Linked DNA regions of Homo sapiens. The protein of the gene in region 2 purifies or fractionates together with the protein of the main gene of each other region. This does not show direct contact. Each region holds a gene or a part of one and is shown on either strand. Other genes may lie near its edges. The genes, in order: MCCC1, FAM83A, VWA8, OBI1 and IQSEC1.

What was found.
Region 1: the proteins of FAM83A (region 2) and MCCC1 purify together in Homo sapiens (affinity purification with mass spectrometry; one large-scale study listed by BioGRID and IntAct). This does not show direct contact.
Region 3: the proteins of FAM83A (region 2) and VWA8 purify together in Homo sapiens (affinity purification with mass spectrometry; one large-scale study listed by BioGRID and IntAct). This does not show direct contact.
Region 4: the proteins of FAM83A (region 2) and OBI1 purify together in Homo sapiens (affinity purification with mass spectrometry; one large-scale study listed by BioGRID and IntAct). This does not show direct contact.
Region 5: the proteins of FAM83A (region 2) and IQSEC1 purify together in Homo sapiens (affinity purification with mass spectrometry; one large-scale study listed by BioGRID and IntAct). This does not show direct contact.

The regions. Positions count from the first base shown.
Region 1 is NC_000003.12:183,012,805-183,017,978, forward strand, and holds the end of MCCC1 (methylcrotonoyl-CoA carboxylase subunit alpha, mitochondrial isoform 1 precursor), read right to left. Parts: intron 4,534-5,174; coding exon 4,462-4,533; intron 2,763-4,461; coding exon 2,634-2,762; 3' UTR 2,414-2,633; downstream 1-2,413.
Region 2 is NC_000008.11:123,205,551-123,212,248, reverse strand, and holds the end of FAM83A (protein FAM83A), read right to left. Parts: intron 5,093-6,698; coding exon 4,561-5,092; 3' UTR 2,824-4,560; coding exon of another isoform or gene 2,753-2,823; 3' UTR 2,725-2,752; coding exon of another isoform or gene 2,714-2,724; 3' UTR 2,171-2,713; downstream 1-2,170. UniProt on the Homo sapiens protein: Involved in mitochondrial maintenance during adipogenesis. May be acting by playing a role in the maintenance of normal mitochondrial function.
Region 3 is NC_000013.11:41,687,609-41,693,892, forward strand, and holds part of VWA8 (von Willebrand factor A domain-containing protein 8 isoform a precursor), read right to left. Parts: intron 5,365-6,284; coding exon 5,254-5,364; intron 4,331-5,253; coding exon 4,266-4,330; intron 3,838-4,265; coding exon 3,712-3,837; intron 2,668-3,711; coding exon 2,558-2,667; intron 1,901-2,557; coding exon 1,746-1,900; intron 1-1,745. UniProt on the Homo sapiens protein: Exhibits ATPase activity in vitro.
Region 4 is NC_000013.11:78,636,948-78,643,231, forward strand, and holds part of OBI1 (ORC ubiquitin ligase 1), read right to left. Parts: exon of another isoform or gene 6,079-6,284; intron 5,267-6,078; coding exon 5,175-5,266; intron 2,125-5,174; coding exon 1,876-2,124; intron 1-1,875. UniProt on the Homo sapiens protein: E3 ubiquitin ligase essential for DNA replication origin activation during S phase.
Region 5 is NC_000003.12:13,062,034-13,068,317, forward strand, and holds part of IQSEC1 (IQ motif and SEC7 domain-containing protein 1), read right to left. Parts: intron 1-6,284. UniProt on the Homo sapiens protein: Guanine nucleotide exchange factor for ARF1 and ARF6. Guanine nucleotide exchange factor activity is enhanced by lipid binding. Accelerates GTP binding by ARFs of all three classes.

The DNA.
Region 1 (5,174 bases), on a different chromosome or scaffold from region 2:
TTTTTTTTTTTGAGATGGAGTCTCGCTGTATAGCCCAGGCTGGAGTGCAGTGGCACAATCTTAGCTCGCTGCAACCTCTGCCTCTGGGGTTCAAGCAATTCTCCTGCCTCAGCCTCCTGAGTAGCTGGGACCACAGGCATGTGCCACCATGCCCAATTAATTTTAGTAATTTTAGTAAGGATGGGGTTTCACCATGTTGGCCAGGCTGGTCTCGAACTCCTGACCTCAGGTGATCCACCTGCCTCGGCCTCCCAAAATGCTGGGATTACAGACGTGAGCCACCACGCCCGGCCTATATTACATTTTTCTATGCAGCTGGATCCTGTTTCCCATTAGATAGGGCAAGAGCAGAAATCATTTCTTACCATCTCTGTTCCAGAGGCCCTAGTGTAGAGCAAATGCTCTGTAAGTGTCTGTAGCACAAACAGATGCATTCATGTGCAAAATAACTCTGCTCACACAGCACCAGAACTGGCAAAGATCCTAAAGAAAGAATTCTACCAATATGTGGGTAATTGGGCTAGCTGGCTTCGAATTCCTTCAATACACATATCCCCAACACAGTCACTTAACAATGAAACAGTGAACTCAACCATGTTCCACTGAAGGATACAAACAGCATTCTCCGAAAGGGGGCAAACAGCAATGTGAAATTTCCATCACAGCACCTTTTGCTTTTCCCTCTATTTTTTTTTTTTTTTTTTTGGAGACAGAGTCTCACTCTGTTACCAGGCTGGAGTGCAATGGCATGATCTCGGCTCACTGCAACTTCCGACTCCCTGGTTCAAGCGATTCTCCTGCCTCGGCTTCCCAAGTAGCTGGGACTACAGGCGCGTATCACCATGCCCAGCTAATCTTTGTATATGTAGTAGAGACAGGGTTTCACCATGTTGGCCAGGATGGTCTCCATCTCTTGACCTTGTGATCCGCCTGCCTCAGCTCCCAAAGTGCTGGGATTACAGGTGTGAGCCACCGCGCCCGGCTGCTTTTCCCTCTTTTAAACAGAGAAAGTTTTGTTTGGAAAGGGGAAACGGCACCCTTGCTAAAACTGTAACTTTCGACATTGTCATAGACTATGTTGCATTGCTGAAACAGAGTATCACAGACTGGATAATTTATGAACTAATTTATTTCTTACAGTTCTGAAGTCTGGGAAGTTCAAGATCAAGGGGCCGGTGTCTGGTGAGGGCCTTTTTGCTGTGTCATAACATGGTGGAGGGCATCACATGGCAAGAGGGCAAGAGCGAGCCAGCTCAGGTCTCTCTTCCTCTTTTAAAGCCACCAGTCCCATCATGGGGGCCCCGCCCTGATGACCATATCCAATCCTAATTACCTCTCGAAAGTCCTACCTCTAATCAACACATGAACTTGGGGATTAAGTTTTTAACACGTGAAACATAGGGGACCCATTCTAATCATAGCAGACATGATTTATGTTTTACTTTTCCAATTATAGGCATCTTAAAGTACGGAGACCATCTTTTATATTTCTCTGTATTTTCCACAACATTTAGCATAGTCTTATGTATTCAGCAAGAACTCAATTCAACAAATATTTAACACTTCAATGAATACATAAAAATGCAAAGGGCTGCACATCTGTTAGTAAAAGTAACACAGAATCTAGACAAAAGTAAACTGAATGGTTTTTCTTCATAATGAAAAAAGTATTTCTAAAAAAAGCATTCAGCAGGCTCAGGCTTTTAACTCTTACCAACTTTTTCTGTAAAATTATGCTTTTCAAATTTACCAAAATGTTATATTAAATATTAATATATTTTAGCATGTAATAGATATATAATACATATATTTTTATAAGCTTAGAAAGTACAATAAAGGCAGAGGCAATCTAGTTAGAAACTTTCCAATCACAAACACTAGAAACAATATCCGTGTCTTTACTTATTTATATTTATGTATTTGTTTTGAGATAGAGTCTCGCTCTGTCACCCAGGCTAGAGTGCAGTGGTGCGGTCTCGACTTACTGCAACCTCTGCCTCCCAGGTTCAAGCGATTCTCCTGCCTCAGCCTCCCAAGTTGCTGGGACTACAGATGTTCACCACTACACCCAGCTTATTTTTTGTGGAGACGGGTTTCACTATATTGGCCAGACTGGTCTCGAACTCCTGAACTCAAGTGATCTGCCCGCCTTGGCCTCCCAAAGTGCTGGGATTACAGGCGTGAGCCACCGCGCCCGACTAATATCCATGTCTTTTAAACTACCTAGCAAGTTGCTTTTTGGCCAGACAAAACCTTAGTTGTTGAACTCCAGGGCACCTGTCTCTGAAACATATTACTGCTCATTTTCATCATAACAGCAACTGGAAAGTAATTCATTTAATTAAATGTCCTTTTCTCTTCCCCCCTTCCTAAAAGAGACTACCTTGTAAAAAATTTGAGGCAGAAACAAACATTGGCTTCCAATAAAAAATAATTCAACTTTATTAGTATGAAATATTTTGAGATAATTAGTGACCCAAATGCATGATTCTCCAATATGAAAGGTGTTCAGCATAAGCATACAATCATTTAGTAAAACTGCTCTTTATGAGACCCCCAGAAAAGCTGGAGGCACTTCCTCTTTTTGGTGGAGAGAGAAGACACTACTTAACTGGCCATTTCCTTGCTGGAGTTTATTCCGATTCCCTTTTGTCTGATTCTTCCTCCTCAAACTCGACTAAAGGAGTGTGTCTGTTGGCCTGAGCACCTTCTCTGTAGAACACTTTCTTTACTGTGCCATCCTTTGGAGACTTTATGGTATGCTGCAGAGACACATGACAGGACAAATGATAGCTGCAATACTAATGAGGACTGAGTATACACCAAGTCAAGAAAGGGAGACCAAAAATGAAAACTGTAGCCAACTTTGATGTTTTGTCATCTCTCGGTGCTTTCCAACGCTTTGTTGTTGTTGTTGTTTTTATTTTTAACATCACAGCACACAGGGAGAACAGTAACAAGTTGAGAGGAATGAACACTGGGACACAGCAGTAACCTTTCAACGATATGACTGGGAAGCTCTGGTGTAGCTCGCAGTTCTCAACTTGAGCTTCACATGAGAATTGCACCTAGGAAGCTTTCAACAGTTTTTTGTTTGCTTGCTTTTGTTTTTTTTTTTTTGTTTTTTGTTGTTGTTGCTGTTGAGACGGAGTCTCACTCTGTCACCCAGGCTGGAGTGCAACGGCATGGTCTCAGCTCACTGTAACCTCTGCCTCCCGGGTTCAAGCGGTTCTCCCACCTCAGCCTCCCAAGTAACTGGGACTACAGGTGTGTGCCACCACACCTGGCTAATTTTTGTATTTTTAGTAAAGACGGGGTTTCACTATGTTGGCCAGGCTGGTCTTGAACTCCTGACCTCATGATCCACCCACCTCGGCCTCCCAAAGTGCTGGGATTACAAGCGTGAGCCACTGCGCCTGGCCTTGTTGTTTGTTTTTTTAAATTGAGACGGAGTCTCGCTCTGTCACCCAGGCTGGAGTGCAGTGGCAAGATCTCGGCTCACTGCAACCTCTGCCTCCCAGGTTCAAGCAATTCTCCTGCCTCAGCCTCCTGAGTAGCTGGGATTACAGGCATGCACCACCATGCCTGGCTAATTTTTGTATTTTTAATAGAGATGGGGTCTCACCATGTTGGCCAAGCTGGTCGTGAACTCCTGACCTCAAATGATCCGCCTGCCTCTGCCTCCCAAAGTGCTGGGATTACAGGCATGAGCCACTGCGCCCAGCCTTTCAAAAGTATTGATCCTTGGGCTCTACTCCTGGAGATTGCAATTCAATGGGTCTGGGGAAGAATTTTTTCAAATCTCCCCAGGTGACTGTACACATGCTCCTTGACTTACGATGGGGTCAGGTCCAGATAAATCCAATGTAAGCTGAGGAGCATATTCAACGTGTATGGTTTTGCACCATTGTCAAGCTGAAAAATCCTTAATTGAACCATTGTAAGTTGAGGACTGTCTGCAATATTCAGCCAGGGCTAAGAATCACTGACCTACCATTTGAACCATCTAAAAACCTAAACAGCTAATTTAATTTGATTGCGGTTTTCACTTTGAAACTGATGCCTGGCATCCTTGGTTCGGCCTTAGAACCAAGATAATACCAACAGTTAACATTAGAAAATACCAACAGTTAACATTCCAGAAACACCAACAGTTAACATTCAGTTGGATTATCTTAGAAAATACCAACAGTTAACATTCAGTTGGATTATCGCCTGATTCCAAGCTATTGATAATTTCATTAATTTCAGAATCAGAAATGACAGGTGCAATTTCACAAAGTTAAAGTAAAACTCTTTTCTACAAGAAGGATAGTTTGGTTTTGTTTCCTACAATTAATGCTTCGTCAATCATGGCTTTTCATATTTAAGGTGGTATTAACTTACAAAATAAGGCAAAAGAACCATTAGGTATGATTGCTCCCAAAGTCCTCATAGCAAATGAACTCATGATTTCCTTACCTCCATCTTCATGGCGATCATAACCATGAGGGAATCTCCCGCTTTCACTTTGTCTCCAGCTTTGACAAACACCTTGAGATTCAGTGTGACAGGTTAATATTTGAAAACACAGAGGTCCTAGATATGTTCATCTGCTTCATTATAGTAACCATTTTACTGTCTATATATACTCATAACATCATGTTGCAAACCATGAATATAAACAATAAAACATAAATAAAAAGAAAAAAAACAACACAGAGGTCCTTTGTGGTCCACAGATTTGGTATATAAACTTACAGAGCAGAAGTAGAGCCCATGTGGTTGTGCCATCTGCCAAATGCACTGGTCAAATCAGAGGCCTACAGCCCAAATATACAGGTCAAATCTGAGACCTACAGCCCAAATGCACTGGTCAAATCAGAGGCCTACAGGTCAAATGCACTGGTCAAATCAGAGGCTTACAGCCCAAATGTACAGGTCAAATCTGAGACCTACAGCCCAAATGTACTGGTCAAATCAGAGGCCTACAGCCCAAATGTACTGGTCAAATCAGAGGCCTACAGCCCAAATGTACTGGTCAAATCAGAGGCCTACAGCCCAAATGCACTGGTCAAATCAGAGGCCTACAGGTCAAATGTACTGGTCAAATCAGAGGCCTACAGCCCAAATGTACTGGTCAAATCAGAGGCCTACAGGTCAAATGCACTGGTCAAATCAGAGGCCTACAGCCC
Region 2 (6,698 bases):
ATGGCCACATGAAGGGGTAGCAAAAGAAAGGAGAAAGGCTATCTGTGAGCCAAGGAGAGCGGCCACAGAAGAATCTAGCTCTGTGGACACCTTGGTCTTGGACTTCCAGCCTCCAGAACTATGAGAGAATACATTTCTGTTGTTGAAGCTGCCCATTGTGTGGTGTTTATGTTTCAGCAGCCCTAGCTAGGTACACACTGCCCTTCCAAACACAAACAGGGAAAGCCCCCTGCAGAGGATTTTTCTTACTCTTCCCTTTTCTCTGGGCTGCTTTGTGTGCTTCGTCGGTGGCATCTTCCTTATCTCCAGGGTTTGCATTTGTTATTCCTCCACGTTCCTGAAAATCAAGGGAAAGGCCTGCTTGTATTTTTCCGGGGAGACTGGGAAGATAGGGCTCAACGACCTTGGGGATTCTTCACTCACCACCATGTCAGTGGGAGAATCTGAAAATCTCTGTTCTCAAGTCAAGGCCACTAGCCTAGAAAGTGTCTTTGTGTGAATTTGTGAAGGGCGTCCTTGCCTGACTCAGGGAGTGGGCAGTAGGGGAAGGTGGCCTTGGCAAGCATAGCTATGGTGGACTTCAGCCTCCCCGGCGCGCCGCCGTCGTCTGCGCCGCGTCTCTCCATCCGCCCCGTGTGCTGCATCATGGTTTCATGCTCTCCTTCACCACACGCTACAGAGGAAAGAAGGATGGAGCGCCCTAGGAAGCAATGCCTGGGTCAAACGAAATACAGTGAACAACAGCAAGAGGAGGTTGTGTTTATGTTTGCACGTGTGTCTGCAGTATTTACATCCTCTAATAACAGTTCCAACACAGAGACACTCTTCAAGAGGAAGCTAGGAAAGTGAGTGACAGTTTCTCTGTGTCCACCGGCTTTTTGGATCAAGTTCAGAAAGTGAAATATTTGGGCCGGACACAGTGGCTCACGCCTGTAACCCCAGCACTTTGGGAGGCTGAGGTGGGTGGATCACCTGAGGTCGCGAGTTTGAGACCAGCCTGGCCAACATGGCAAAACCCCATCTCTACAAAAAATACAAAAATTAGTCGATGTGGCGGCGGGCGCCTGTAATCCCAGCTACTTGGGAGGCTGAGGCAGGAGAATCGCTTGAACCTGGGAGGTAGTGGTTGCAGTGAGCTAAGATCGCGCCACTCCAGCCTGGGCGACAGAGTAAGACTGTCTCAAAAAAAAAAAAGTGAATTATTTGAAGAAGCTGCTTTGACATTTTCATGACAGGCTAGCAGGGTCAGCACGAAGACTAAGTGAAGGCGAGGCAGCCCTTCCTCCCCTACATTCTGGAGGGACAGAGAGTGAAGGTGGTCTGGGGTATCTGATTATTCGTCTCCCCTGTAGGAGCAAAGCTCCTCACCAGTGTTCAACCAGGGAGGACTGACTGTGCCCTTGGACTGTCTGTGGCACCAATGTAGCTCTGGACCTGTGGGTCCAGAGAGATACCTTTGGTCTCTGGGCTCTTATGATGTAAATGGAGAGACAGGAGAGCAGTATCTGATGAGGACCAAGTGCAGGTAACAGATCATTCCTAGGAGACAGGGGCTCTGAGGAGCAGCGTTGATCATTAGCAACCCACACCTCAGTCCATGTTGGCTGACTGTCCTGTAGATAGGTCCTATGATCCAAAGTCCCTGGTTTGGGGGATGTGTTTGACCTTAGGTGAGGTACCCCAGGACATGAAGATCATAGTATTTCTTCATTCTCTCATGTTCTTCATGGTGGCTGTTCACATGAAGGTCCCTCCCAGCCCTCTCCGGAGCTGACACAGTGCCTGGCACATAAGAGATGCTAAGCTGCAGCTGTTGAAATTCACACTGTAGTAGAGACTCCATATGTTTAAAGACACGGAGTGACACTCTAGCAAGCAGGCCGCAGTGAGGGAGGTACAGGTGTGATTATAACCCAGAGCAGAATTAAAGATGGAACGTGACCCGGTTTTGTAGGATTTGAAAGTTGGATAAAGACTTCTTCTAGCTTTCAGATAGACAATTGCCAGGTGTGTCAAACCACCCCTAATCCTGTGGTGGAAATAGTGTATGTGTCGGGGGGTCTTGGGAATCCAGAGCAATGGCCTAGCCTGGAGTTGGGGGGTCTCAGAGGCTGTATCACTCGGGCAAAGCTAGATCATGGTGCAGGAAGAAACAATCCCCAAATCGCAGTGGCTTAAACAACAAAGGTTTATTTCTTGCTCACTACATATCCATTGTGGGTTGGTGGGGTGGGAGTGGGGGATTCTGCTCATCGCTTAGGACCCCAGGCTGGCAGAGGAGGGTTTCAACTGGAGAGCTGCTTCTATGTGGCAACCTGGACCCAGGCTCTCAAAGCTTCTGCCCAGAAGTGACCCTCGGCGGTTCTGCTCATGCTCCACTCGCCGGGGCAGCCCCGACCTAACCTCCCAGCAGGCAGCGCATCACATGTTACAGGTGCCCAGGAGAGGAGAAACTGCACCTTTGTCAACAAAGACGACCACGGAGGGGAGACTGCTGATGGAGGGTGGTCAGGAGTAGGGGGGCTTGTTCCTGCCTGCAGGTTCTCCCCTATCTCCCAGGACTGAGCTCGACACAGGCACAGGCTGAGGCCTTTGGAAAGCTGGGCTTGGGAGCTTCTGTGACCTGGCAAGCTTTGCCTTCCTTAAACTTTCTCAGCAGATGGTGAAATCCAATTTGGAATGTTCAGCCGGGCCCAGTCATTCTAACCTCATCTCAGCCGTCAGCTGTGAAACAACAAGGTCAGGGCTGGGTTCAGAAAGCCATCAGGAACCAAAGTGTTGTTTGTTTTTTTGTTTTTGTTTTGTTTTGTTTACTTTCAGGAACTAAGGAGGAAAAAAGTGAAGGACAGGAATACAATAATTAATAATAATAATAATAATAAAAGAAACCAGAAGCCAAGATGCCCCAGATCATGCTGGGAGCAGTGGAGAATTGGAACAGAGGGATGGATGGGCAGAGGGGACTAGGGAGGATGCCACAGGCCGTCAGGGGTCAGAGGCCACCAGGAGGAAGAGCTCTGTGCTCTCGTCCCTCCACAGCGAAGGCTGAGCTTCCCCGCCAAAAACCGACAAGGGAGGAGAGGGCCTAGAAACAGGAGAAGGATGTGGAGTTGGCACCTGCTCCCCTCTGGCTCCCCAGCCTGGATCACATACCACTGACCCCACTATCACACCTGAGGTGCAGGGTTAACTCTTACTTTATCTGGGAAGTGTCTCTGACATCCCACCCACCACAGGGCTGGCCAACCCTCCTCTATGCTCTCTCTCTTTTTTTTTTTTTTTTCTGTGACGGAGTCTTGCTTTGTTGCCCATGCTGGAGTGCAGTGATGCAATCTCAGCTCATTGCAACCTCTGCTTCCTGGGTTCAAGCAATTCTCCTGTCTCAGCCTAATTTTTGTATTTTTAGTAGAGACGGGGTTTCACCATATTGGTCAGGCTGGTCTCGAGACCAGGTAATCCACCTGATCTCAGGTAATCCAACCACCTTGGCATCCCAAAGTTCTGGGATTACAGGCATGAGCCACCACGCCTGGCCCCTCCTGTATGCTTTCTAAGCATCCTATATTTCTTTGCACTCAGCTAGGCTGTGCCCTCAGGACCTAGTTCCACCCCAGAAACAAAGAGGGGCACTGTGAATTGAGAAGAAATGAATGATGGGGCTTGTGAGGTTCAGCATTTATTCCTCAGGAGGTGACCAGGCTGGTCAGAGGCACCTGGATCTGGGGACAGCTGAGCCCTCCCTGCTGCTCAAGACTGGCCTGGGCACTGCAGTGGGGCCAGTCCTGGCCCCTGACAACTCAAGCTCCTAGGTCCAGTCTAGACTCCAGGGACCTCCAGGCCAGCCCAAGGCTCTTTGAAGCAAGAATCTGAGTCTACTAACCTGCCTTGTCCAACCCAACACCCCAAACTCCTCAGCTAGCTGCATCCCTGGTGGCTACAGCTTCAGATGGCTCCCCCATACAACTCATAGATAACGGGTTCTGGGGCCTCACCCCTAATTCATTGGGCCCAAGGATACCCTAGTATTAGCCTTTCCTAAGAGGAGGAGTTTCCCCAACTCTCCCGAAACATCCAGAATGTTCCCACACCTTCTCCTCAGTCTTTCTTTCCTGAATTTCTTGGGAGTGGACCATTCCTGGGCACTGGGAACCAGAAGTACCAAACTACCATCTATCTCTCAGTGCCTCTGTTTACCCATTTGTAAAACTTGGGCTGCATTTCCTGCTTCTTACGGAGTTTTGGGGGCCATTAATATTAAAGCCCCGGATGATCTCTGGAAGACAGGGACTCTGTTTTCATGATTTTGTCCTCTAGCTGCCCCACAACCTCCCTGGAACCTTCTGGAATGTGCTGCACAGGTCAAACTAGAGCGGGGAACCCAAGAACTGGTGGGGGCCGGCAAGTGGATGGCCTGGGGCCTGGGAACATTGAACCATGGCAGTGATTTTGAGTGTCTTTTCAAAGGGAAGTGGCTCAACGCCACTCGTCGTTGAGGTGGGTCTTTGGGTCTCAGGGAGTGCCCAGCCCTGGGCCTGCGGAGGGCAGCAGGGGATGGGACCTTCAGAAGTGAGGGGAGGCCTGCAGGAAGGGCCTCCAGGTTGGAGTCAGCCTCGGCACCAGGCCCAGCTGCTCCAGCTGCAGCCGCGTGGGCCTGTAGGCCCCCAGGTTGCTGTAGACAGCGGCGGGCGGGCCGTCGTGGGGCCGCGGGGAGAGGTGGGCCTGGGGACTCGGGGCTCCCCAAGGGCCTTGGTGGGGCTGGAACCGGGGCGGTGGAGGCGGGTGTGGGGCCGCGGGGCTACAGGGCCCTGAAGACGCGGACACACTTCGGGTACCGGGGTGGCTGCCTGCCGAGCGGCCGCTGAAGGGGTTGGAGGACGTGCGGTCACTGGCGGAGCCACTGCTGCTGCTAAGGCGGCCATTGGCCGGGGCTGCTCCGGGCGGGACGGGGGCGACCAGCCGCGGGGACTTCAGGCCCATCACAGGCTTGGAGGAGGCGTAGAGGTGGCGGAACTCCTCGTCAAACAGCTCCACCGCCTGGCCTGTGAACTTGGAGAGGATGTTCCGGTGCACGTGTCCGCAGAGCCAGGTGAAGCTGGAGGGGAAGAGGAGAGAGAGTGATGGAGGAGAAGGGGGAAGGATGGGGAGGGGAAGTGGAGGAGGAGGGGGAGGGGAGGAAGAGGGAGGGAGGAGGTGGAGGAAGGAGAAGGAGGGAGAGGGGAAGTGGGAGGGGGAAGAGGAAGAGGAGGAGGGGAGGGGGAAGGGAAGTGGGAAGGGGAGGAGGAGGAAAAGGAGGGGAGGGGGAGGAGGAAGAAGAGGAGGAAGAGGAGGAGGAGGAGGACAGATAGGAGGCTTCGCCGGCCCAGGCCCCAAGATCCTCCTGGGGGACCAGTCTGGGAGTTGTGGGTCCCCTCGGGGCAGGGACGGAAGGGGACCAACCCATGCCCACTGCCCCTCCTCTTGGGCTCATTTCATCCTGGCAGAAACCCTGAGAGAGAGACATTGCGACACCTCTCTTACAGACGACAAAACTGAGGCTCAGGGGCCAGAATGTGTTTGCGGGTGAATAATTAAGATGCCAGAGCGAATCCCTGGTCTCAAGGCTCCCTCCTGGTGCTCAGATTGCAGCCCCTTAGAGGCTCCCTGAGGAGGCAGAAGGGAGCTGAGTCTCAGGCCCCCAGAGTCTGCGCTTAGGGTAGTCACCCAGCAGCCGGGGCCTTCTCGTCTCCACCTGTGGAATGTGGAGGGCCAGCGCGCCTTTAACCACACAGGGGTCGGGAAAGCCCCTGCAAAAGGCGGCTGCTCTTGGGAAGCCGGACTGTGTTTTCACGAAAATCTAAAGCGTTCCTGAAAGAGGATTCGGCTCCATTTTCAGGCACAGGGACCCAGCAGGGATGAGTGGAGGAGGAGCACCGTGCGCCTCCCGTTGACGCTGACAGGAGTGGTTTATGGAGGAAGCACCCAGACACGGGGCCGAGGCTGTCGGGGCGAGGGGTGGTGGAAGACACCCTCAAGGAGAGGCCTGGGGCCACCACTTACAGGTTTTAGGGAAAAACAAAATGCCTAAGGCAGTTATTACTTTGTATGATTCCCAGATTTTTTTTTTTTTTTTTGAGAGTCTTACTCTGTCACCTAGGCTGGAGTGCAATGGTGCGATCTCGTCCCACTGCAACCTCCGCCTCTCAGGTTCAAACGATTATTCTGCCTCAACCTCCCAAGTAGCTGGGATTACAGGCGCCCGCCACCACGCCCAGCTAATTTTTGTATTTTTAGTAGAGACAGGGGTTCACCATGTTGGCCAGGCTGGTCTCGAACCCCTGACCTCGTGATCCGCCCGCCTCGGCCTCCCAAAGTGCTGGGATTACAGGCGTGAGCCACCGCGCCCGGCCTGTTTCCCAGATTTAACCCCAACTCTTTTCTGTTTCCGATGGAAAACTCCTTTCGTTTCTCCCCCCGCCCCCTCAATGCTTGAAACTCTGGTAACAGCATAGACCTCCCGAGAGCAGCAGGCTAGAGGCTCCTGGGCTCCTGCTCAGGTGAACTTGAAGCAAGAGGGAGAGGATGGTCGGGGGAATGGTCGCCGAGCCGGGACAGCGCCAGAGCTAAGCAGAAACGGGCCCGTCAAAGATAGGATCGCAGCCCCCAGCCCCCAGCCCACCTGTCTTGCCACCCAAAGGCCTGGCCTCAGCCCAGGGTTGGGA
Region 3 (6,284 bases), on a different chromosome or scaffold from region 2:
TAAGCTCTGTCTGTTTCTATTTTTTTCATTTGTAAAACCTCATAGAATTGTTGTAAAAATTAACTATCATGTATGAAAGGGCTTAGAGCAGCACACTGCCTATTCTGTTGTGGCCTAAAAGTATTACTGTCATCTTAAAGGCTGCCTAGCTGACTCTAATCTTCTATTTAACAAATACTCATTAAATACCTCCTATGTGGTAGGTACCACACTAAGTAGCAGGGATATAGCTTTTAATTTAACAAGGTCACTAGTGTTACAGGCTATAAGAATTTCTACAAGGTTAATAGAAACAGTGCCTTAACTTAGCTTTTATTTTCTAACTTTTTATAATAACATTATACTTCTATATTGATTTCTTCAATCAGAAGAAGGTAATTAGAAGATCAATTTTTAAAATAGTTTTATCTCCAGAAAAAGTCCCAATTTTTTTTTTACAGCAGCAAACATTGTAGAAAGCATATAAAACACATCTCTTTCATATCAAGGCTGCTATAAACACTGTATTTCAATAACGTTTCATTTTGAATTACATGATAGCAGATGCTTTTAACTTGATAATTAGGAAAACATACATCAGAGTCCTAAGCCACATTATCCATTGAGTTTTAGATTTCAAATCTTATATCCTGAAGTACCCAGCATTCATTAACTATATTAAAATGTTGAGGCATACAAAATTGGAGTACCGTCAAGCAGAGCCCATATTTTTATCTTTAAATAATTCTATCATCCCATCTAAAAGCTACAAAGGAAATTATAAAAATTAAATGTTTAGTCAGAACACATGGAGCTACATCTAAGGTTGTTAGATGGCAACTTGGACTGAAATAACTTTTATAATTAATTTCCCCACATTTCCATCAGAGGAAGATGTCGCCCAGTTTCACCTACAGTCAATTCAAATAGCTTCTCCTTTATAGGTAATAGGAGATAACAGAAGGGCCCATCTAAGAGGAAAATCAATTGAGACAATTAGCCATTATACTATAACCTGGATGCTGCAAAGATATGATAAATCAGAGCAAAACTCAATGGAAAATAAATCTATCTTCATGACTGTTGAAAATTTTAATCTACAATAATGACAATCCAACAAATTTAACTTTACACAGGAACAAAAAACCAAATATCACATGTTCTCACAAGTGGGAGCGAAACATCGAGGACATACGGACACAAAGAAGGGAACAACAGATACTGACACCTACTTGAGGGTGGAGAGTGGGAGGAGGGTGAGGATCAAAAAACTACCTATCAGGTACTATGCTTATTATCTGGATGACCAAACCATCTGTACAACAAACTCCTGTGACATGCAATTTACCTATATAACAAACCTGCACACGTACACTTGAACCTAAAATAAAAGTTAATAAATAAATATATAGAATGTGTAGATGGAAAAATAATTAACTTTAAAAAATTATAGAAGACATGACAGAAAATTACCATCAGAAGGTTAAGCATTTAAACTGTATTACATGAACCCCCACATATGGAGAATACTCATTTCCCCCTACTAAATTCTATCATTGCATTACGCTTTCAATGTTAATTTTTGAAGTGTAATGAAACTATTTAGGTATAACATATTTTCTACTGACTGATTTGGAAGGAAGACTTGATCCAACATGTTTACCAGGAAATTATGTTTTTAATTACCCCTCAAACAGGCTTACAGATTATAGGTCAAACTAAGGGAAAGAAACATTTATCCGATAATTTAAAAAATGGGTGCTTACCATGAGATCTGGAAAACCAACAACTATTGTAGCATAATTTTTCTCATCTGAGAGAATTCTGTTGGGAGAGGCAATCTTTTGTTCCACAGCTGAACTTAGATGTTCAGATGATAGTTGATCACTGGAAATTTTATGAGGTATGCTGAACTCTGTTTCTGAAAAGTACAAACATTAGACACCATATGCTCCTGAAATGCTCCAGGAATTAATTTTTTGCAAGATTTTATTCTCAACAAGTCAAATGGAAAAGAACAAGTTAAAAAAGAGAAAACATTTTAAATTACATTCATGGGCTTTTGTTTGAAAAAATGCTGTTTTTATAATCAAGGCATCTTCCCAAAGTGATTTCAAGTATTTACAGAATTCAAAATTTTATTAGGAATAAATATTATAATTAATAGCTCCCTGTAGAAAAGATGTAAAAACTGACCCAACCAAGGGTTGGCAATGGTATGTTTTAGATTTTTTTCGTAAGTACTATTCATCCCCCAAAACTGTGATAAATTAAATAGAAATCCCAATAGTCTGCAGAAAAAAGATGTTATCCTAAATTAGACTTGCAACCTAAATGTATATAAAAATACTGATCTGTCAGTTAAAAAAATTCAAGGACAGAGCTTACAACAGTGAACTTCCTTATGACAATTTGAGATACTAGATTCTTATTTACTATTTCTGGTGTAGTGACTAAGTTTTTTCTTTTGGTGTAAACTTAACATAGGCTGGTGTTTTGTTCTTAAATGATTCTAGAAGACAGTATATGTACAAGCATGCACTCACACAGCCATAAACACAGATGACATAGTATTTACCTTGTGTAACTCCAAACCCTGTGCTGGGCGGCTCCTCTTTCAGCACATACAACTGGCAAACCCCACTACCCTCAGATTCGATGTGTGCAGGCTTAGTTAAAAGATATTTCCTGCAAACAAACAAAACATCTAGCTTAAGTGAAATTTTTCTTTTTCTAATAGTAATAAGGCCAGACTAAGAAAAATTAGATTCTCCTCAGTCTCTTTTTTATAGTTCCAGTATAATTTGCAGTTTTAGAGTTTCATCATGAATTAACAAATAACTTCTCAACACTGTGTTAAAGAGCAGTGCACAACAGCAATACAGTAATGAATGTGAGGCAAAAATCCAATGCTTCCTATAAGAGAAAGGGTTGTGGGGAGGGGAAGCAACTCTAATGGGGTGCACTCTTATTATCATGTAACCCTCTCTTGATAAAACTCTTTGATCAGCCAGGAAGGGGGAGTATGACTTCTGATTTGTGATCAGCTAGGAGATAGATGCCCTCACAACTGTAGTCTCCTTGATCTACTTATTTTTAACATTTCTAAAATATGGATGTATATATAGGCAGAAATCCTCTGCAATGAGATACTTCTGCTTGTCAGCAGAGGGGCAGAAAGAGTCTGCACTTAGCTAGTGGAGTTGTGCATGAGGGAAGGTGCTCAAAGTCGACACCGCCTTTCATCAAGAACTGCACAGTCCAATGGGTCAGATAACATAAACATAAACATAACCACATCCAAACCAGAATACACAAGATAAAAAGAGAAAGACACTTCTAAGGTGTGAACTCTGTGAATTTACAAAGAGGCAACAGCTCTAGGATAGAGACTGTGGCTCTTTGAAGGGAAAATCTACTTTGAAGTGTCTCCAGTTTAGCAAGAATACAGTGAATTCTCAATGTACAAATAGGAAAAAGCCCAAATAAATATGGATCATATGAAAAAGTCATGATTTTTTAACTGTTAATTTCAATGTCATTTTCTGAGAAGTGACATTTATTTTTTCTCCCCTCCTCAATTCTTATAAGTCTCATATATAGAGATGCTGCCAAACACAGAAATTGTTAAAGGACAGACACAGGAAAGACAGAACAGTAAAGATGTTGGATAATTCATAAATAAGATTGAGCTACAACATACTCCATGATACACTATATAAAGCCACTCACTGATTTGTTTTGCTCTCCACCAGAAGCCATTTGTCCTCTGCTACAAGGAAAACTGTCTTGAGGTTGATGGGAAGTGAGATGGTGTGAGTTCGCCCTTCTAGAACATCCAGCACAGTCAGGCTGTTCCTGGAAAAGAAGAAAACTGTATCTGAAAGGAAATGGTGAGGATAATGGTTGAGTAATCTGGCATAATCATTTCATGATACATTATGCAACCCATAAAAAGAATGTTTTAAGATTAAGTAATAATATAGAAAAATGTTAATTAAAAAAACAGATATGCAAAATTCTAAACTATGTCAGGGTGTGTATAAGTAAAAATAATGGAAAGTAGTAACCATTGCCATGTTAGTAGTGGCTATGTCATGGAATTGTGAGCACTAGCTTTTCTTATATCTGTTTCTCAATATTCTGCAATGTGGGCAAGTTACTTTATATTAAAACATTCATAATTTGGTTACATTCACTTTATAGTAAACAAGTATAATCAAAATAGGAAATAGAATGGGCCAAATAAGAACTCCAGTTTAAATCCTCTATAATAAAGAGCTCACCCTTTTTCTTTGTAGAACACCAGCCAGTTTTTGTGTGAAAATTCTTTACACATTTTATAAGTTTCCTAAAGACAAACAAAACAAGATATTCATATTAAATGTGTCAGATACAGTCATGTCCCTCTTTAGCTACTTCCCCTTAAATAAAATAAAGTTCTTCAACTAGTAAAACATGTAATTCTCAAACAAGCTATCTATTTATCTGCTCTAAGACTCTTATGGTAAAATGGATTAAACTATATATCAAAATTTACTGTGAACTTTGTACTAAAGCCTCTTCAGAATAAATTTTTAAAAACAACACCAAACATTGTTAAGAAATAACAGGCTATCTGATGATTAACCATGGAATTTACACCATAAAATAAACACATGGGAAACACTTTGTTTCTTATATTAGGATACATTTATGACATTAAAAAAAATCACTCTTTTCATAGTCTTTTAAGACCTAAGTATGTTGACTTGCAGGGCAGAGGGTAAACCTTATTTTAAATCCATTATTTTTTTCTGAATGGCAGAATAAATTCTCTTGTGTTGGCCTAAACTATTTACTTACTAGTTTAATTTAGTTAATAAACTAAAACACTTATTTGTCTAATGGAGGAAATTAGGTATCATACTCACAGTTTCATCATATAAATCCAAAACATAACTACATAACTGGAAAACAGGTTAAATTGACTCCATGATCAGAAATTTGTTAAAAATACGATATTCAAATAGTTTTTAATTTTCTCTTATTGTTAGTCCAGTCCTGGCAAATCTTCATGCAAGTATAATGTCATAAAAAGAATTTATTGATATTTAATTATACACATATCTATGGTTATATATATCATGTTAAAATCTATACGTGCATAACAGGAAATTCTCTTGTGCATTACAACAAAAAAGGCACTTAAAGGGATGGGCATGCATGCATCTTTCTGGTTAGAAAGCTATAGAAATCCTTGGCAATTTGTGGGACAAATGTGGTGTTTCTTACAGCTTCTTCTTTGTTCCACCAGAAAGGTTTCTTAGATGTAAACTTCTCGGAAGGGAGGATGAGACGATGAAGGGCCCGGCCAGTAGTATCTAACAACAGGATAACATTACTCTGCAAATGATAAAAACAGTGAAAAGCTCAAGATTTGTTCTTTTTTTTTTTTTTTTTAAAGCAGCAACCTCTTGGCAACCTGACAGTGAAGGTTATAGTGATAAATCAAAACAAAGACAATATTGTAATACTTAAGAAATATCACAAAGACATTAAGTGATTTTTCTTAAGAATCACAAAGAATTAAGTGCTTCTTAATTTAAGAATTTAAAATTTTTGGTGGTTTTATGAAGACGTTTCTAAATATGTGATGCAGAAGGTATTCTCTTTAAATATTTTTATGTAAAAACCATTCCCTTTTAAATATAAGCTAGTTGAACCATGATTCTGTTTTATTATCTAGTTATAAGGAAATTACAAGGATTGATGATTTTAAGAAATTCATCTACCTGTAACAAAATTATACTTAGAGAATGCTCAGTTGAAAGCTCTCTTATATTGTGCATAATTAAATCTCATTTATCTTTTTCACAAATCCAGGTTCAATTTAGAAAATAGGTATAAAATAGATATAAAGAGGACTAAGCAAGAAATATGAAGGACTCCAAGAAACTAGCTAGTAATGAATGTTCCTTCATTTAGAAATTCACCAAGCTTGAAGAACCTTCATAACTGGTGCTGTAATAAAGTACAAACAACAGATTTCTGCAGCATTATTAATCACAGCTATGCAATGATGTAATCTTTCAGTAATTAGGATACGTTTTTTTAAGAAAATAAATAAACCTTATGTGTTGAAATAAATGAACTGAAATACATGAAATAAAAACTTAACATTGAGAAAGCCAGAAAAAATTAAATATTTTAAAGGGATGCAAAGAAGTTGGCTTTTTAGTTAAAATATAAAGAATTTTGAAGATTAGACTAACAGGTTTGCAGAAAGGTACCTGCAAGTTATTTGTCAGACCTCATTGTTATGC
Region 4 (6,284 bases), on a different chromosome or scaffold from region 2:
TAGGCTGGCTAGTTCCTCAACTATCAGAGATCTTTTCAAGTTCAAGAAGGTTAGGTGAATAAAAGTTATGAAGGGCAGAGTTCTGCCTACCTTTTGCACCTAAAAGAATAATGAATATTTCAGCTAACCCTTCTGCATTCTCAACACTGATTGGGTAATGACACTGGCCTCACGATGGTTCAAAACTCACCCATTCCAGGTAACATCAGAAAAAAAGTCCACTTCATTCATGCTAAGTAATCCTTTATTCTGAATCTTTTGTATTCCTGTATTTGATTATGTTGAGTATGTTATTACTCCACACTTTAGTTTTTATCTCTGCAGTCCATGTTTTTTCATTCACTTATGTCCCAGTTTATAACCTATTACCTACTAGCATCACTAGGCATAGAAAATGGGCTTATTCAATATCCCAAAGAATTCTGAAGTCCCAGGGTAGCTTTGAGTATTGAATTTAACATTTGACCATTAAAAGAGCAAAGGAAAATTAACTGTGCTTTATGTATTCTTCTTTAATATCCATCCCTCATATCACCCTTATAAGCCTCATGTTCTAAGAAATATTTACTGCCAAAACTTTAAACGAAGTTTAATAACTACAAAGGAGATCATATAGTGCTTACCAATGGCTCAAGAAGAACCAGGGAAATTAAAGGGAACAAGGCAAATTGATAAATACTGTAATTTCCGAGTTGGCATTCCTTTTAGTATCCTATTGTCTTCTAACAAATCAAGGTACTAACACTGGTCATCAATACCCAAAGAAACTATGCACTTCTCCCTCCTACACACTTATAACAAACTCAGTACAATTATGTCTGTAGTTTCTTTTTTATCTAAAAGCACTAGGCTCTCTCTTCTCCTCACCCTGGCCTTTTCTGAGCCCAAACAACATTTATTTTATATGTGGAAGATGGCTTACATCTAAGTTGCAAGTATTTCTCTGCTACTTAACCTGAGGACCTGAGAGCCAATATACAGGGGAACTCCTTTAAAATACCATATGGAGCTCATTAATAATTTTGAGAGATAAGATTTAGTAATTTCACACAGGAATAGTATTTTAAGGAAATGCAAATAGTTGAATATGTGATTGTAGAACTGAGTACTACAAAGCCATCTCCTTTCAGCACAAGAGGACTCCACTGTGGATAAACTTGAACTCAAGCTAAAGGCTGATCACTTGGGTCAAGATGGTGTTGTAGGAGTTGCCTGTAACATCTAGTGCTGATGGCATGGATCTTATCTCCCTTTCTAGGCCGAAAAATCCTAGAGGTTTGCCTTTTTCACCATGCTGTATCTCGTTCAAAGAAAAACTGAAAAAAATGAACCAGTTTCATAAATCACAACATTCTTTTGCATGAGGTACTCTGAAGCAGCTGCTTATTGCTGTCCTGGAATTAGTCACCAAGTCTTTATCTATCTACAATCTTAAAAATAAGAGAGTGGTAGCAAAAGAAAAGATAAGGTCAAAACTTTTCCTTTCATTGGTGCGAAAATGGTTATGTGTTTGTTTTTAGGTACACAGGGGAAGTCGCTGATATAAGCTTAAAAAACCTATGGCAAACCACAAAGAGGACGAAACAGAAACACATCCTTTAAATTGGTATTATTCTTCTAGAAGAAGATGCAATCTTATACAGAAGCACAACAGTCTCTAATTATAGTCACACATGGAACCACCTGATATTTCTTGGCAGTTAATGATATTTAAATAAGAAAAAGTCTTCTTATTGCATATAAATGCTCATCCAGAGATTCTGTCCTTTCCTCACAAATCATCTGATGATGAGTCAAGATAATATGGCTATTTATGCTTTTGAAGGTACTTATTTTAAAAACAACCATAATAGATTTTTAAAAACCACAACTTACCTCCTTTAGCTTATCCACATCATCTTTCACTTTTTCATAGATTTCATTAGCTGTTCTGAGTTTTTTCTTCCACTCTGCTACAGTTTCTGGGTTAATTTTACTTGGATTATCTGTGACTAGATGTTTGTCTTCATTTTGGTTGCCCTGCACCAAGGTTAAAGGATCCAGAATAGTTTTGATCTGTGACTCCAAGCTGAGATTTTTACTCTTAAGCTCTTCTACTTCTTTCTGTAAACAATCTATTTCGTCCTGAAAAAGCATTGCATAGTCATGAGGCAGGCATAGACACTAAACACATACATACATATGCTAAACTGAAGCCAACATGGTTTGAATTTTGTACTTAAAATTCTGTAGATACATAGATTCTTTACATATCAAAAGAGTTTTGCAGGGAGAAAGTCACATACAGTTTAAATTCTCAAAATGTGGCCTGACTGATAAAAATTGGGATTTATGTTGCCTTCATTTTAATTCAATGTTAGTTGTGATTTTTAAAAATGCCAAATCTTTGATTCTATTTAAGATATCATCCAGGTGGAGAAATAGGAACACTTTTACACTGTTGGTGGGACTGTAAACTAGTTCAACCATCGTGGAAGTCAGTGTGGCGATTCCTCAGGGATCTAGAACTAGGAATACCATTTGACCCAGCCATCCCATTACTGGGTATATACCCAAAGGACTATAAATCATGCTGCTATAAAGACACATGCACACGTATGTTTATTGCGGCATTATTCACAATAGCAAAGACTTGGAACCAACCCAAATGTCCAACAATGATAGACTGGATTAAGAAAATGTGGCACATATACACCATGGAATACTATGCAGCCATAAAAAATGATGAGTTCATGTCCTTTGTAGGGACATGGATGAAATTGGAAATCAACATTCTCAGTAAACTATCGCAAGAACAAAAAACCAAACACCGCATATTCTCATTCATAGGTGGGAATTGAACAATGAGATCACATGGACACAGGAAGGGGAATATCACACTCTGGGGACTGTTGTGGGGTGGGGGGAGGGGGGAGGGATAGCACTGGGAGATATACCTAATGCTAGATGACGAGTTAGTGGGTGCAGCGCACCAGCATGGCACATGTATACATAGGTAACTAACCTGCACAATGTGCACATGTACCCTAAAACTTAAAGTATAATTAAAAACAAAAACAAAAACAAAAACAAAACAAAACAAACAAACAAAAAAAAGATATCATCCAGAAAATAAGAAAAGTCACATGAATTCCAACAGGGAAGTAGATTCCATTTCAAAAAAGAACAAAAAAACAAAAAACTTGAGGCATACTCAACTGCTTTACTGAGGGGAATTTGAAAGTACATTGAGGGGGGCCGGGTTAAAAAAAAAAAAGGTACAGTTTGTCCCCACCTCATCCCCACATCTACAGGGGATTGGTTCTAGGACCCTTAGGGATACCAAAATCCATGGATGTTCAAGTTCCTGATGGAAAATCACTAGTGCTGTATTTGCATATAACCTACATACATCTTTCCATACATTTTAAGTCATCTCTAGATTATTTATAATAACCAATACAAAGTAAATGTCATACAAATAGTTATTAAACTACATTATTTTTATATATATTTATTTTTTTAATTTTCAATCTTGGTTGTTTGAATCCACAGATGATGAATCCTTGGATATGGTGGGCTGACTGTACAGAGTTATCAAGATGATCGTGCCTGTAATCCCAGCACTTCGGGAGGCCAAGGCAGGTGGGCCAGCTGAGGTCAGGAGTTCAAGACTAGCCTGGCCAACATGATGAAACCTCGCCTCTACTAAAAATACAAAAAATTAGCTGAGTGTGGTGGCAGGCACCGGCAGTCCCAGCTACTTGAGAGGCTGAGGCAGGAGAATTGCTTGAACCCAGGAGGCGGAGGTTGCAGTGAGCCGAGATCATGCCATCTGCACTCCAGCCTGGGTGACAGAATGAGATTCTGTCTCAAAAAAGAAAAAGAGGATTGTTAGGGTTTTGATATTTATACTTTCACTTCTATATTTGAAGTATGAGTGAAACCATCTACCATTTCCTTCTACTTTTCATTCCAGAATAATATCTGTAGTTAATTTTGAATTTTCAACTTTTCTGGATTCTGGTTCTTCAATTACTACTGTGACTATTGCAAGTATTAGCCTTCCCACTCTGGAAATGTTTATTATCCTAAAACCAGTCACTAAACATTTGGGTTAGAACTTCTTACTATGATGCCATTTATTCATCTATAATAAATATGTCACCTTAAATTGAGGTTGTTAAAAATTCTGCTAGAAAATAAACCCCCAAGTAGCTCAAGTGATCTCCCAAAGGATTAATTTGTTTACCATCTGAGTATGATAAATATTCATTATATAAAAATACATTTTAGCATTAAATGTCACACAGATAGTACTACTTACTATTTTAAATTGCAATACATTTCAACTTAAATAGCATTTTCATAAAACAAGCAAATTCATATATGTAAGGAACACATATATGAATAAACATATATTCAATCATGTATTTATACCCCACTGCATTCCAAAAATTTTTGAGGCAGTTGAGGCACCTTCCATGTACACAGTTAAACTGAAAGATATTTTGAGTCAAGAGGGGATCGATATCTCCTTCTTCAGTCAACATAAAATGACAACTGGGCTTAATGTGTACTATTCAAAAGTGTATGTATTCTATTAGCATGAATTTATTTGTAAAAATAGCATCACCATGTCCAATCATCCTGTTCATTCACCTTTAGACAATAATTAGGAAACAGCATGTTTCACACTAAAATCTCTGTGCTGGCAGTTGACATAAGGTATAGTATTTACTTTACTAGAATTGATCAGGCTTATAATCATCAGTAACTTCATAGGCAGAAGCAACTGATGACTGCAGAGGTCAGACTGGCTTTCACAAGGAGATTTCCTTTTTCTCCCAACTTCTTGAGGAAGCAAATACAAAATGATATGTCTGTGGAGGTACAAATTTTAACTTAAAAAAAAAAAAAAAAGAAAGAAATGCTTCCATCTGTTCCTTTTTTCTGGAATCCCATTCCCCCATTCCTTGGTACTTAAAGAAAAAAAATAAAACAAAAAATCTCTTTCCTCTATTTAAAATACGAAAGGAAAAAAGAAAAAAGAATTTATCAAACAATTTCTTTTTATAGGCTTTTAAAATAAAATTTCATTGGATATTTACTCTAAGAAGTCTGGGGACTGAGGTAGGTCAGTTTTTACCTTGAATTCACTGCTAACATAATTTTAAACTTTGATTACTGTTTACCTCATATTCTTTGTGTAGTAATTCAAGTCTAGTTTTCCGAAGATGCTTCCTGACCGTATGGCTTAGCATAGGTTCACTTTCACTTGTTCCTCCTGTAGGGAAAAAAAAAAAAATCCTAATTTTTCATTCTGATTCGGGAAGAATGAAAATGATCCTTTTTCATATTGTTTTATATAGCTTCCCAGCTTCACATCTACCCTTCCCCTTACATACACACTTGGGGCTTACATCTAGGCCTTTTCTCTACCCTAATCTTGAGGAAAAAAAAATATATCAAATAACACCATAAGAAATACCTTCAGTAACACATCATATTGTATTTACATATCTACATATCTTATCACAGCAAACTCAGTGGAGGAAAGGGCTGTAATTATCACATTTGGACTACTTCAAATTCTGAAAACTAGACTATATTTAAATAATAAAACCAATTATTACATTTACATTTAACCAAGAGATTATATAAAAATGTATTACTGGCTGGGTGCAGTGGCTCACGCCTGTAATCCCAGCACTTTGGGAGGCCGAGGCGGGCGGATCACGAGGCCAGGAGATAGAGACCATCCTGGCTACAGTGAAACCCTGTCTCTACTAAAAATGCAAACAAACAAAATTAGCCGGGCGTGGTGGCTGGCGCCTGTAGTCCCAGCTACTCAGGAGGCTAAGGCAGGAGAATGGCATGAACCCGGGAGGCGGAGCTTGCAGTGAGCCGAGATTGCGCCACTGCACTCCAGCCTGGGCGACAAAGCGAGACTCCGTCTCAAAAAAAAAAAAAGTATTACTGCTATATACCTATGTATATAGATTAATGTGTCTTTTCACGGATTCTAACAGGCTAGTTACAATGGACTGTAAGTCATGGCATTAACTCTATGTCATGACTTGTTACAAATGCACTCACAATGAATTCTTCCTGAGAGCTCTTCACTGATGCTCTGGTTACCTTCTTTGTATTTTTTAGCATTATAATAATAGCAAAGGTATTTTACAGGTGTTCTTTTTCAGGATGTTCTATCCAAATGCAAAAATGGATGAACTATTTTCCTTGAGAGAATTTATGAAATATCACTTAGGTATGAATGAATAAAGGTAGGATATGGGATGAGA
Region 5 (6,284 bases), on a different chromosome or scaffold from region 2:
AAGGTGAACAGGACATGGCCACAGGAGCATTGGAGCCCCTGGAGCCAGCCACACTGAAGCCAGATCGTGGGCTATTCACTGACAGTAATCACGGAAATCCCTTTGACTTGAGTTTCTGCCGTTTGCCACCCAAAGGCTCCTGATGGATACACCATTACAGCCCAGCTTCCCTTCCCTTCCCTTCCCTTCCCAGATGTTCACATTTCTTAAGTCCTAGCACGTCCTGAAGCCCAGCCCTGTGCCGTGAGAATCCAGGGGAGGAAGGGGACAGGAATAATCTCTATAGGTCACAGAGATACCACAGGCCTTATTACCTCATTCTGTCCTGATGGCCACCCTGCAAAGCTGGAATTATTAGCCTCATTTTACAGAAAAGGAAATAGGTTCAGAGAGGTTGTCTTCTGCCCCAAGTCACACAGACACTGGGCAGCACATAAGGAGTTCCATCTGAGCAGCTCCTTGGAGAGGGGTGGGGTCCTGGCAGGGGAGGCACAGAGAAAGGTCTTGATTACCCCCAGATCTTGGACCCCACATCTGCTGAGCTCACCTGGTCTTGGAGAGCTCCTCTGAGGTGGCCTGACCTCTCTGCAGCCCAGAGATGGCCAGGGGACAGACACCCGAACAAGGAAGGGGGTTGGAGAGACTTGAGGGCATTTCTCTTTTATCTGATGGTGGAGAGCAAATGGGAGGAAAACGCTCGGTGTTATCGTGGGGCCAATGAGAGCCTTAAGATACAGGCAGTGAATTTCAGCCAGGGCCCTGGTGATTTAAGATGCATCACTTCCCTTAGTAACCATGCCAAGCAGATGTCAGGGACATCTTGATGAGGGATGAAGCCATCGGTGCCAATAAAACATTTTTCTATTAGCCACGCTCAGGTCAGCCGCCTGCTGAGCCACAGGGGTTGCTCTGACAGGACCTTCATCCTTCGGAGGTCGGGCCAGTGTGGCAAGGTCACGCCATGGGATATAAAGGGGGACGGGCATCTCTGGCGCAGCCCCAGCTCCTCAGAGCCCTGATATCCCAAGCTCATGCTCAGGAAATGGGATGCACAGGGGAGGGAGAGCCGGGACTCCTGGGCTGGGCAGTCTAGTGGGCAAAGCCTGGCCCCTCAGAGAGCCGACACCACGCCCAGCCTGGCTTCCCCACTGCCCTGTTCACTGCCCTAGTCCTGCCCACAACCTCACCAGCCATGTCCCAGCTTTCCTTCAACCAGTGACAAGTCAATTCACTGAAAGCTAATTCATAGAACAGTCAATTTGTAGAATGACAAAGTCATAAAAAGTACTTGCTTCCTTCCCTTAACCTTTTAGCTTTAGTTGACTGGTCCATTTTTGTCTTCAAAATGGCATTTGATGGAATGTTATTTGTCTCTGTCCCAGCTGCCCACTGTGGTGGCAGGAGGCACAGACAAGCATGGTGACTGTGTCATCAGGAATGCTGCGGGCACAGGGCAGAGGAGGGCAGGAGTGGCCGTCAGCAGGGCTGTTCTGCAAGCCCAGGGGAGCAGGAAGGCCCACCTGAGAAGAGGCCTGGGCTGGGGCTGGGGCCCCGGTTCTGGGAGGCATTGGGGGACAATGGATAAGACCTCTGCTCCATCAGCCAGCTGAAACCACTGCCTGCTGGCAGAGCAGGGTCTGAAACTCAGAACCCCTGGGGGCCAGCCAGGCCCCAGCTGGCAGCAAAAGGGACTTGTGTTTCCTTTCTGGGGTGAGGGGCCGGCCCCAGTGCCCCTGGTGGGATGCAGCCTTGGAGAGAAGGGCCCAAGGTGTCTCAGGTGTCAGGGAGTGGAGGGCAGTAGAGGTTGGTGACCATGGTGCACCACCAAGGAACTGAGACTGGGAGGTCACTGGCTGTCTGCTGTCCTCAATTACCAGGGATCTCAGCCTGTCAGACCTGATACCCACCCTCACCTTTTAAAAATTAAACTTTTTATTTTGAGATAATCGTAGATTCATTTGCAGTTGTAAAAAAAAAAAAAACAAAAAACAATACAGAGAGATCTTATATACATCGTTTCCCCCAATGGTAACATCTTACAAAACTATAGGATCCATCACTACCAGGATTCTGACACTGCACTGTCCTCCCATCTTAGGTAGCTTTCCGATTTTGCTTGTACCGTGGAGCCTGCATACATGATACGCCTGCATAGAACTAAACACACGCATGCACACACATACAGGCACATACAAGTGCCACCACAGTCAAAATACACAATAGCTCCATTACCACAAAGATCCCTTGTCCAGCACCCCGCTCCTTAAATCCAGAGCTTTGCACTATCCTCTTCTCTCTTCTCAAATGAAGCTGATGACTCATGTGATCCATCCACACACATATTTAAAACAGAACCAAGAGAATGGCTGAATGGTAAAATTACAGAGAAAAAAAAAGAGGAAAATAATTTAGAATAAAATAAACGGTAATTTGTCATGTTAATCGTGGGTGGGCCTACCCTATAGTCACCTGCCTGGTCGTGTGACAGCGACCACAAACCCAGATGGATGCTGGAGTTCACTGGGCACTCTGGCACCATGAGAGATGCTGTCCTTGGTGATGTGGTGCTCTGAATGGTGGCAGCTCTTGGCTGAGCTCCGAACATATCAGAGTCTGATCTTCCCTCGACTGCGAGAGCAGTTGCATTCCTGGAAAACTCAATGCATATTCAAATCATACAAAATGCATTTTGTGGTTTAGATGTCAAGAGGAGTGAGGACCAGACTCGGATAGTTGCTCGCAGATTTTCATGCCCATAAATATCTGTGTGGATTCTTGGTGTGGGGGCCTGTCCTGCACAACCTAGGCTGGCCCTGCTCCCACATGCCCTCTGGCAGCTCTGCCTGAATCTGGGGCCCACTGTCAAAGAGATGCTGATAACTGTGCCCAGGACTGACCTGGACGGAGAGCCAGCTAAGGTGACAATGATGAAGGCTTGACGCATAGGCTTCCTGGAGATGTGTGGGGGTGTTCATCTTGGAATGTTCAGGCCCAGTCCCACCAGCCTCCCTTCTCCTGCCTGGGGAAGACACACAGGGCTTGGCTTCCTTCATGGAGGCCCCACTGCAAGCAGCTGGCCAGGGCTTCCCATGGAAGGAGACCACCACCTCCTGCAGGGGCCGGCTGGTCACACATCCCCCAAGTTGAGCGTTTCATTGGCTCAAATCCAGAAACCACAAAACAGTGGTGGGAAAACTAAACTGCTCTGTGTCACCAGCTTGCTGAGGGAGCACTTCAATGATGAAGCACACATATAAATGCACAGAAATTCACCAAGGACCCAAAGGAACTGGACACAGCCGTGGCCTCTGGGCAGAAGAACAAGAAGCAAGGGAACCAAATAGACAATATGTGCAGCCTTTTTTTGTACCATGTGGATGAATAATCTCTCAGTTATATGACTATATTTGAAAAACAACAAAGACGTAACCATCCCTTTTGTAAGCTAAACTTCATCACTCACACTTTTATTCAAGAGGGGGAAATTTAAAAACACAAGATACCACTTCACACCATTAGGATGGCTATTATTAAAGAAAAACAGAAAGTAATGAGTGATGGCGAAGATGTGGAGAAACCAGGACCTTTGTGCAGTGGTGGAGGGAAGGTAAAGCAGTGCAGCTGCTGTGGAAAACAGTATGGCGGCTCTTCAAAACAGTCAGCATCCAATCACAATCTGACCCAGCAATCCCACTTCTGAGTATACACCCAACAGAAATGGAACCAGGGACTCGGAGAGGTATTTGCACACCCATGTTCACAGCAGCACTATTCACAACAGCCAAAAGGCAGAAACAACCCAGTGTCCATCAATGGGTGAATGGACAAACAAAATGTGGTCCATCCGCACAATGGAACAGTGTTCAGCTTTAAAAAGGAAGTTCTGCCCATTGCCGCAGCAGGGATGAACCTTGAGGACATGAGGCTAAGTGAAGTAAGCCAGTCAGGAAAGGACAAATGCTGTCTGATTCCACTCACATGACATCCCCAGGGCAGTCATATTCACAGGGACAGAGAGCAGAATGGTGGGTGCCAGGGGCTGGGGATGCAAGATGGGAGTCTGCGCTTACAGAGCACAGAGCCCTGTTTGGGAAAGTGAAGTTCTGGAGATGGATGCTGTGTTGGCTGCACGGCACTGTGAATGCACTTACTGCCGCTGAAATGTGTGTAATTAAAAAAGGCAAACATGTGGTCGATCTGCACAACGCAACAGTGTTCAGCTTTAAAAAAGGAAGTTTTCTGTCTATCTTACCACAATTTTAAAAATGGTGATTTGTACCTTGTCAGGCCAGGCCCCTCAGGGATGCTAGAAAGCAAAGGCAGGACTTCCGGGCAGCTGGTGACAACAGAGGGGCCGGCACTGTGTCTGTCACAGCGAGGACTCGCCACGCGCCATGCGGGAGCTCTATGAGGGGGCCCATTTGCCTGGGGGAGTCAGGAAAGAGGCACAGGCTGGGCTGTGAGGTCTGAGGTGAAGGGGAAGAAGGGCACTCCCGGCAGAGGAGCCAGCATGGGCAAGAGTGTGGCAGGGTGAGCCTTCCAGGCAGGGCTGGGCAGGAGTTGGAACGTTGTGGGATCGTGGGAGGCCAGGAGGACCAGGAGAGAGGGCCTCAGGCCCCAGAGCGGCTGAGGAGAGAGGGGTGTGTGCAGGAAGGGGCGCCCACTGCCCCACCCCGTTCTCTTCCCAGCTGTATCCAGGAGCCGCTCTGGCAGGTGCCACCAGGTCTTATTTACTGTGTCCCTTCTCTGGGCGGTAGCTCCATGCAGGCAGGGCGGGCCTGGTCCATTTACAGGCGTAGCCCACAGGCCTGGCGTGTGTCAGGACGTGGACTAGATGTCCAGTGACCATGGTGGGCTGAGTGAATGAATGGGTGAGTGATCGGCAGGATGGGGCCATGTGAATGAGCCAGCATGCCTGGAGCTGCTGTGCCTGGCAGACACCACTCCTCCCACTCCCAGTCCCCTGTGTGTCGCAGCATAACCAGGAACTTTCCAGATGAGGTCAGAGGCCCAGAGAGGGCAAGCAGCCTGCCCAGGGTCACATAGTGAGGCAGGGACAGAGCTGGAGTGGAGCCTCCTTGTCCTGCTCTGTAAGGCCCCAGGTGGGCCAGGGCCTCAGAGACCAAGGGGCAGGATATTTTCATCCACTCTGCCTGCAGGGAGCCTCCTGGGGGTAAGAGTGAGATTTGAGAGAACAGGAGCCATCCAACAGGCTGGAAAGAGCGGGAAGGGCAGACGGGGGCTGTGTCGTCAGTAGGCTTTTGGGGGAAAGCAGCAGGCTCTAAGGTAAGCCTGGGAGCAGCTTAGCCAGCACCCAGGAGCAACGCCTCCTAAGCCCCCACTGGTGGTGACAAAACTGGTCTGGTCCACAGGCATTGGGTGGGGGGCTCCCAGCCACTGTGGGACAAGTACCCTCAGCACCCAGGACAAGCAGGCTGGGGGCAGCCATGCCACAGTGGCAGTGACCAACACATTCCAGGTAGTGCATGCAGTGGGGAAGGGGTGGGGAGGGACAGAGCCTTGCGGCCAAGAGATCTGGAACCTGCTCAGGGTAAGGCGTCAGGTCCCCCAACACCTGGGCCCCCTGACCACCCTCCTTCCCTTCCTCATCCCATCTCTGTGCACTGGGTGCCCACTGGCCCCACCCACAAGGGCACACAGATCTGGCTGGGGAGGAGCAGGGTCTGGAGTCAGGCAGACTCACTGGCTGTGACCCTGAGCAAGGCACTTCCCTGGAAAACAGGATGGCACACAACCACCCTGCCAGAGTTGTGGGATTCAACAAGATAAGGCACTTTTGTTGTTATTCTTAAAGACCAAGTGAGTCAGTGCAAGGAGGCAGGCCAGGGCCCTGAGGAGATGGTGCCAGGTCCTTTAGGGGCACAGGGGGCCTTGGGGGGCTTCAACAAAGGGCCTCCAGGGAGGGACAAGGATGGCGTGACACTTGTTGAGCTTGGGGCCCAGCCTGCTTGCTGGCCCGCAGGCAAACCCTGGAAGGGGAGTATCAGCCCCACCACATAGAGCAGGAGGCTTAGGCCCAGTGCCTGTGCTTGGGGCACTTGGGAAAAGATGCTGACCATGGGCTGACCAAGGCCCAGCAGGGTCCTGCCCCGGGGCTGGGGCCAATCCAGGCCTTACGCTTCCTCTGAGGCCCAGGGAGGATGTGGATGTCGGACCTGTCCTTCACGGATCCTTTGGTGGAAGATGGTGGCAGGTGGGTCAGAGGTAGGTGCTTGCCTAAGCAGACGCTACTTGTTGCCCTGCCTGTCCAGCAACTACCAGAA